3 separate regions of the Homo sapiens genome follow, and all the other regions are linked to region 3. Evidence: fine-mapped expression QTL. A gene starts in region 3. Each other region holds a variant in brackets. All regions are shown on one strand. Distances are between the middles of the regions.

Region 1 (2,767 bases), 43 kb after region 3:
TGTTTATAGATTGTCTATAAGCAAGAAATATAAGCTTTATAAAATTCAGTGATGCTATGATAAATTTTATATGATGTGCAATATTCCACAACTAAAAAATGTAAATTTTTTTGCTAGGATACCCAAGAACTCTAGGTTGCAGATACAGTGGTCACTCCTGTCAGCCTCTTAGCATTTGACACAAGTGGTCTCTTTCTTGGAACATGTGGCCTCTAGGATACTCCATGCTTATGGCTTTTTTTTCTACTTGAAGTATTGTTGGCTCTCAGTTGCATTTCTGGGATCATCCTCATCTTTCTGACCTCTAACTGTTGGGGTTCCCTAGGCTCAGTCCCTCTACCTCTTTTCTTCTCTATGTTTATTTCCTAGGTCACTTAATTCAATCCCTTAGCTTTAAATACCACTTAGGTATTTTTCAAATTTATGTTTCCAGGGCCAGTGTGTTCTCTGAAGTCTAGACTTTTATGTGTCTTTGGATATCTAATAGCATCTTAATTTTAACATGTCTTAAACCAAATTCTTGATTTCTACTTTATCATCACCCTCCCACTCCCCATACAAAGGAAAGTAAACAAAAGAAGCTGCTCTTAGTGCAGCGGGGGTCATACACTTTCATTGATTAACTGTGTGGCCTTGGGCAAGTTATTAAAAATTTCAGTGCCTCAGTTTCCTTGTTTGAGAAGATCAAATGAAATAATACATATAAAGCATTTGGAAAAGTGCCTGAGCCCTACTAAAAATAAGGTTAACTATTAGTTATTATTATTTATTGTTACCAAAATGATAACAGTAACAACAGAACAATAATAACAATTTTTGTTGATTTTACTCTAAGGTTGTTTTCTGAATCCTAATACTTTCCACCACTTCCATGGCTACAACCCAAGTCAAAGCCATCATCCTCTCTTGCCTGGAAAATGGCAAGAACCTCCTCACTGGTCTACTCGTTTTCATTCTTGCCTTGTGTGATAGTTAATTTTATGTCAACTTCACTAGGCCATGGGGTGCCCAGATATTTGTTAGACATTATTTTGGCTGTATCTGTGAGGGTGTTTTTAGATGAGATTAACACTGGACCCAGTAGATTGAGTAAAGCAGACTACCATCCATCCCTAATGTAGGTGGGCCTCATCCAATCAGTTGACAGTCTGAGTAGAAGAAAAAGGGGAATATTCTCATGAGTAAGAGGATACACACCTGCCTAACTGCTTTGAGATGGGACATTGGTTTTCTTCAGCCTTTGGACTTGACCTGAAACGTCAGTTCTTCTTGGGTCTAAAGCCCGCTGGCTTTGGACTGGAATTATAACATCAGTTCTTTTGGGTCTCCACCATATTGACTATAGTTGTTGGGACATCTCAGCCTCTGTAACTTTCAGAGCCAATTTCTTAGAAGTCTCCTTATGCACATATGCACACATGCACACACACACCCTGTGGATTCTGTTTCTCAGGAGAACCCTGACTAATATACTCTATAAGTTTATTCTCTCCAAACAGCTAAGGGAATCCCTTAAGAGAGTAAATCTGATCACATCAGTCCCCTGCTAAAGACAGTCTAGTAGCTTTTCTTCATTCTTGAAGTAAAATTCTGAGTTATTTTCTTGAGGGGAAAGAGAGACAGAGAGAGAGAGAGAGAGATACCAACACACACACACACACACACACACACACACACACACACACACACACACA[C/G]AGAGAGAGAGAGACAGAGAGAACTTGAGATTACCATTTCTTTACTAACGGAAAATCCCACCTGTGTTCGTTCCTCCCCATAATCAGCTGGAAATAGAAATTAGAACGTGTGATAACGTGGAGCTCCAAATAATTGACTTGTCACTTTTAAATGTTAAATAACATTGTTTATTTTTAATGATATGAAAAAGTGTATTTTAGGAAATGACCCGTAATGCCTATGACATAGAAAATAAAGTATGACATGCTTATAGAAAGCACAGTCAAACAGTATGGAAAGGTTCTAAATGACTTATAGTCTCTTGAACATGTGGACCTACCATATTAGTTTCTCATGTTTCCTTCCAGAAAAGAAATTATGTGTTCATTGTCTGTATATAAAATATTTCTATTTTTTCATTCACACAAAAAGAGTATACTTACACATTATTCTGCTCTTGATTTTGCAACTCAGTAATATGGCTTGGCCATCCTTCCGTTATTAGCTAATATAGATCTTTCCCCTTGTATCATGGACTACATAGTATTCCATAGTCTGGAGATGTCATATTTTATTTAATAAGAACTAGAGTGTTGAAAAAGCGTTTGTTGTTTTCATTTTTAGCTCCAATAAATATCCTGTACATCTATCTGGATGAATTTTTGCAAGTGTGGATGTAGGTAAATTCCTTGCAATTAATTGAGAGGTGAGAGGGGAAAGGGTAAACACACTTTAAATGTTGGAAGATATCACAAATTGCCTCTAAAATGTGTAAATTTACATATCTAGCAACAGTGTCAGCATTAGTCATTGTTAAACTTTAAAACCTTTTAAAACTTTTAGTTAGTGGGTGAAACTAACATCTTATTTTCATTTATATTTCTTTAATTATGAATATAAAATTTTTCCTCAGCCTATTTTTTGGCCAAAAATATTGGCCATTATTTTTATTTTACTATAAATTATCTGTTCATATTTTTGTTTATTCTTTATTAGTTTACTTATCTTACCCTTGATTCTTATAACTTGTGAATACGTTAAAGAAAATTTTTGTGTAATGTGTACTATAAATGTGTTTCCAAGTCTTAACTGT
Region 2 (2,767 bases), 34 kb before region 3:
GTAACCGAGGAGACCTTTTTTAATCTTTTTTTTTTTTTTAATTCATGGAATGAATAGGCTGAGGAACTTTCTTTTATTCCAAGAGACCAGAGAGAGGGGTAGTTCTGTGACTTCTAAAATACATAGAAACTTTGTGGGTCTGAACTGACTTTGGAGCTTGGTGTTGGCAATTTAAAATTCAGTTGTGAAGGCTGGAAAAGAGTTTAGCTTCCCATGCACCTGGCTGGGTCCTGCCCTTGCTGGATTTTCTGAGGCAGACGAATCACCACTTATTTATCATTCATTTGTTAGATTTATTAAAAGTAAATAGGATCCCTGACAGCTGCTGGGCTCATATGCAGACCTGGAGCCAAGGATATGAGAATATGGGTAGCCCTGGCAAACCTCTACAGCAGAATCTGACCTCACCAAAGGGAAAGTAGCATGGCATACCAGATCCTGCCATGGACAAGGACATTCCTGAAGGCCCCAGGATGGCAAATGTCCCAACTCCAGTTCTCCAGGAATTATTGTCAGATTCTTTCTCCAGCCACAGAATATTAGGAGGATCCTCTAAGACAATGATGCTTCAAATCCAAAGCATGAGACTTTGAGGTTCTCAGGGAGGATGTTTGTCTCTTATTAATCTTTGAATATGACAATTCCTGGAGTCAGGGCCAGACAAACCCGGTTTAATTTATAGTTTTACCTCTTTCTAGCTTGGTGGTAATAAGTCAGTCTCTGTGAGCCTCTATGTCTTCATTTGCAAAAAAGAAAGAAAGAAAATAGAAACACATGATTCAAAGGGTTGTTGAGGGATTCAAATAAAATACTGTATGTAAAGCTTTTAGCTCATTGAGGGCTCCTTCAGTGAATGGTAGTTATGATTATCATCATCTTTGAATCCTTCGCACTTAGACATTGGGCATTTTGTAAATGTAAGTTCAGTGAATGGGTTCATTCTTTGATTCAACTAATTTTGTGCCTGTTACATGCCAAGCACTATTCTGCAGTGCACAGACACACCTCCTGACCTCATGGAGTGTACAGTTTGGTGGGAATACAGGAACAGAGAAGTAAATGAATGGATAAACTGTCTGAAATTTAATTTTGGATAGTAATAAGTTCCATGAAAGATATTAAGCAAGATAAGAGGATCGAAAGTGATTTTGTATATGTTTGTGTGACAGAGAGAGAGAGAAAAAGAAGAAAGAAAGAAAAGAAAGAAAGAGAAAGAAAGAAGAAAGAGTATAGCAAGTGAAGGTCTATGGGTGAGACAAATGAATAAATATAAACAGAGATTTCTTCAGGTACTTATAATGCATCTGCCCTACTTGTTTTAATACCTTTGGCCAAGTGTTCACTCAACAACATATCTCTGTACTTGATGAACTCTTGTGCTGTAGTTTCTCTTTACCTAGTGAGGTGAGATAACTCCCATTAGGTGAGTGTCTTTATTTGTTTTCATCCTTGACCTTG[G/T]GTCCTTTTTCCTAAAGTGTCCCCCACCTCCATCCCAGGACTTCATCTCAAAAATAAACATAAAAGGCAGGAAAATGCCTCCCTTTTCATATCTGACTTCTGTACTTCCAGGCTTGCCTTCCAGAAGTGGACAGCCATGGATTCAAGATGTGTCAAAATTGGAAGGAGCTTTGTTTCTATTTGGCCCTGAAAAGTGTTCCACAACTGGACTGCCATATTGAATTATTTTCAGCAGTAGAAATTCTTCGATGGCCCATTTCAGACCAGCCTCTAATTTGAAAGTAATAACATTTGGGCAAAGCTTAGATGCACTAAGTTGCTGCCGAGGGCTTGGTGGGCTTTGAGGTAATTGGTTTTACTCAGTTGCTGATGCTTCACTTGGACAAATGAGAAATCAAACTACAGCTCAGTTTGCAGAAAAGCCCGTGTCAGCAGTTTAGTCTGACTACTATTTCAGAGCTTGTTATATTATTGGCAATAAAATGCAACTAATATACTGTTAATTAATATTGCATCCTACAGCTAATTTATCACATTATTAATCAGAGTGATAAAGCCAAGGAAAATGCAGCTTACCTTTAGTGTCCTTTCATCTCTTTTAAACACTTGTATTTACGCACAAATAGGTGTTTTGGTCAACATTGTCAAGTGTTTGGGTGGTCCTGGATGAGTGTATTTTATTTGCAAACAGTAACTTCCCCCTCAGGAATATTTTATTTAGCAAGACAGGACTTAAAGTGAAAGGGTAACCATTTCTGATCGTAACCTTGGCTTTGTGCTTCTAGTAATTATCCTTTAATTTCATTACCCTATTTGAAATAGAGTTGTAATTGGAAAAAAACAATTTGACATTCCCTGATGCTTACTCTGACATGCACTATTTGCTTTTTATTCAAATGTAAATTTTCACCATAATACTATCAAAGAAAGAAAAAAAATTAAGCAAAATTGAAATGTCAGTTGCAATTTCTGACATGCAGGCAGTGTCATTCACTGGTTTTGTCTGGAAGGCAAGACTTTCACTTCAGATGGAAAAAAAAAATCAAACTGAAATTAGTATGCTTTGAGGAGAGGGAGAGATGGATGGCAGAATCACAGATCTATTCCTTTGGGATATGTGTCCACTTTGCACAGTGGCTTCAAAATATCAAACAAGCATCCAGCTATGATTTTTGGATGAATAATCCTTTATGCTTAATATAAAAAACACTTTTCCTTAAAAACTGAAAAATCATAAACTTACCTCTATTTTACCCTAGGCATCTTGAAGGTGTAATTTTCATTTGGAGCATGTGTTAGGCAGTCTCTA
Region 3 (2,767 bases):
ACATCAGTAGTTTTAAAGAGTTCTTAAGCATTTTCTCTTGCTGCCCATTACCAAACGGTAAGGAAGGTAGATTAGGTTGAGGAAGCTGAGAAAACTCACACGCGGCCATGATGCTTGCAAGGTCTAGGACATTATCACAGGGGTTTCGGGGTGTTAATGCAGAACACCCCCCCCACCACTAACAAAACAGCAAAACAGCCACTAACAAAACAACAGCAGAGGGAATTGAGGATTAATTAGGGAACTCACTTTTTCTTCCTAAATTTGTAGGGGAGATGCAGAAATACCCGTTCCAATATGTTAATTTCCCTTAACATAGTTTTTTAGTTTGTTACCAGTCTCCTTATTAGTGGGAAAAGTAACATTTAGAGGAAATTTAACAAAACAAAAAATTTACTTCGTTTTTAGGTCAACTGATGTCTCTTTTATGAAAAACATAAAAAAAGTTTTCATGAAATGTTTTATGAAAAAAATTAAAGGCTTTTCTTGGCATAGGGTCTTACAACTTACACAGCGTCTTCCCAGATTATCTCTTATTTAATAAAAATATAATTTAATCTACCCCTACTCCCCAAATCAGGAGCTTTAGTTATGGGTACATACGCCTACAAAAGTCACGCATCCTGCAACTGTGAACTTTTTGTGCCTGTCATCTTCAAATACTGATTACCTATAACATGACAATTGGCCCAAAGGCAAAGAGGAGAGTCTCAATCCTCAGGAAGATCTAGGTACAATAAGAAAGGTAAAGGCAATTTAAAACAAAAATATAGTCCATAACACCATTGAAAAGATTTGGTTCAAGTGTGGTAGTCAGGACATGCCAGGTACAGTGCTTAGGGCAAACATCATTTCAGGAACCTTCATAGCCACCCTGAGGAAAGTACTATCATTCTCATTTACAGATGAAGAAACTCAAGCCTAGAGCTGTTGTTATCATGCCTAACAGAGTGCCCCCAAACCCTGCAATGATTCCCAACCCAACCCTGTAAGAGGCCACATACATTTCTTCCTTAGTTCACGGCTATTTACAAATGACTAAAACCACCAGATCCGTCCAGTGGGCACCTACTAAGTTCATGGTACCGGGATGGAAAAATAAACATTAGCCTTTGGCCTCAAACGGCCAGGGTTGAAAGGATTCTGATTTGAAAAATTAAAAACAAAAATAGCAGAGATAAAGGCTGTCTACGGAGTTCAAGGCCACAATAACCCTAAGTAGTTCACGTCAAAATCGTAGCTTTGAAGGTCCTGGGCCTACAGGACAGGCGACGACCCTCAGAGAGGTCAGAGGCGGCAGAACCTGTGCTGGGCTTTGACACAAGGCGTTGCGTCGCAGATGAACTACGCGGGGGTAGGGGTGAGAGGCCCCGGCCAGCAGCTGGAAATCCCCCTCACGTGTGCGGGCCTCCTCTTCCACCTCTCCCCGGGTTCCCCCGTTACGCCGCCGGGCTCCCTCGCCACCCAGGGGCCTGTCTCCACTCTCCCACTCCTCTCCAGGGCCTCCCCCGTTCCCCTTCCACCTTAGCTTGAGCTCTCCTCCGCCCGGCTTCGGGCAAGATGCGAGTCCACACAGGCCACACTCGACCGACCGCTTCCCAGCCAGTCCCCGCGCTACCACTGAGAGGACGGCAAGCGCGGGCTAGAGGAGCTCAACGCCACCACAAAGAGACGTCCGGGAGAAGCCTAGAGCGGACACGAGGCTGGCCGCCTCCGGGGACGGAAGGGGCGGGGCGGTGTGAAGTGGCAAATGATTCAAGGCGAGGCAAGAGGTGCTTCAGATGCTGTCTTTTGCAGTCCTCCGAGAGGTTAGGGATGTGGGAGGTCCCTGGGGGCCATCTCTTACAAGACACAGTTTCCACTAAATTGGATCGTATTTGTACATCTCTACACCTGTGCGTGATAGTAAACTTTTGCACCCAAATACCCCGACCCCTGAAGGAGAGTGTGAGTTAAAAGGATCTGAAGAACGGACCCTTTGTTTAAGGTCTCACATTCTATTTCTTTAATTCAAGCGAAATATATTCCAAAATGCATCTTTTATTGTAAGCTATAAAAATAGCTATTACTTCGAGTAAAATGTAGGCTCCAGGAAGATGCTTGTAAATTTTCTCAGAACAGAAATGGTATTTTTATTGTATCCTTATTGTCTGTCACAGTATAGGTGCTCATTAATTTTTAAAGTGGGTTTTATTATCTAGAATCCAGGAGAACTGAAAGTCTCTTAAAGATTCTTGGCCTTTTAATTATCTTAAGGTCGGGATAGCAGGGAAACAAAAACTTGTTTTAAACTCCCAGTGAAAAATGAGGAACAGGTAAATAAGACAAGCCCCACCAAGGCCCAAGCGTGCTAGTAATTCTCTGCATCTACTGTAAGCTGTTTTCTGCAGTGCGTCTATGGTCCTCCCACCACTTTCATACTGCTCGCCGACTAGGCAAGCGATTTGATGCCTAGAACTAGGGAATGACAGAAAGGAAAAAACAATGAATAGTTTCTTCAACTGTGTCTGCAGGAGGTTGCATTCTGTAATTCTTTTACTGTTTACTTTGTGGTTGGCACTTTGTTAAGCAATGATTAGACAAAAACAAAATTTATTTCTGCTTCCAAGGAGCTCACAGACTAGTGAGAGAGGAATAAACAGTTAATCACAGTGTGGTGTGAAAAGTGTCATAACAGAAACACATGGATATAAACAGGATAAAATGATAGGGGCTAAAGCAGGAGCGTTCTGGGAGGAGATTAATGCCTGCATGGAACTTAATTTGA

What was found. PIP is the estimated chance that this variant, and not a neighbour inherited with it, causes the effect.
Region 1: its variant is the best candidate, but not a certain one, in a credible set for the expression of ARL14EP in monocytes after LPS (Kim-Hellmuth 2017, PIP 0.83).
Region 2: its variant is the best candidate, but not a certain one, in a credible set for the expression of ARL14EP in substantia nigra (GTEx, PIP 0.73).

The regions. Positions count from the first base shown.
Region 1 is chr11:30,278,656-30,281,422 of GRCh38, reverse strand. All of the region lies in intron 1 of ARL14EP-DT (ARL14EP divergent transcript), which reads left to right. Among named protein-coding and RNA genes, the nearest start is that of ARL14EP-DT, 43 kb to the left of the region's middle. The variant C/G (reference allele first, on the strand shown) is at 1,695.
Region 2 is chr11:30,355,704-30,358,470 of GRCh38, reverse strand. It overlaps LOC102723403 (a long non-coding RNA gene), which reads left to right. Exons shown (of 4, transcript XR_001748162.1): 4 at 1,570-2,767. Among named protein-coding and RNA genes, the nearest start is that of ARL14EP, 34 kb to the right of the region's middle. The variant G/T (reference allele first, on the strand shown) is at 1,459.
Region 3 is chr11:30,321,959-30,324,725 of GRCh38, reverse strand. It overlaps ARL14EP (ARF like GTPase 14 effector protein), which reads right to left and starts at 1,622. Exons shown (of 4, transcript NM_152316.3): 1 at 1,524-1,622. ARL14EP-DT (ARL14EP divergent transcript) reads left to right here and starts at 1,780. Exons shown (of 2, transcript NR_187437.1): 1 at 1,780-1,808. RefSeq lists a silencer at 1,393-1,522 and enhancers at 1,593-1,842, 1,355-1,960.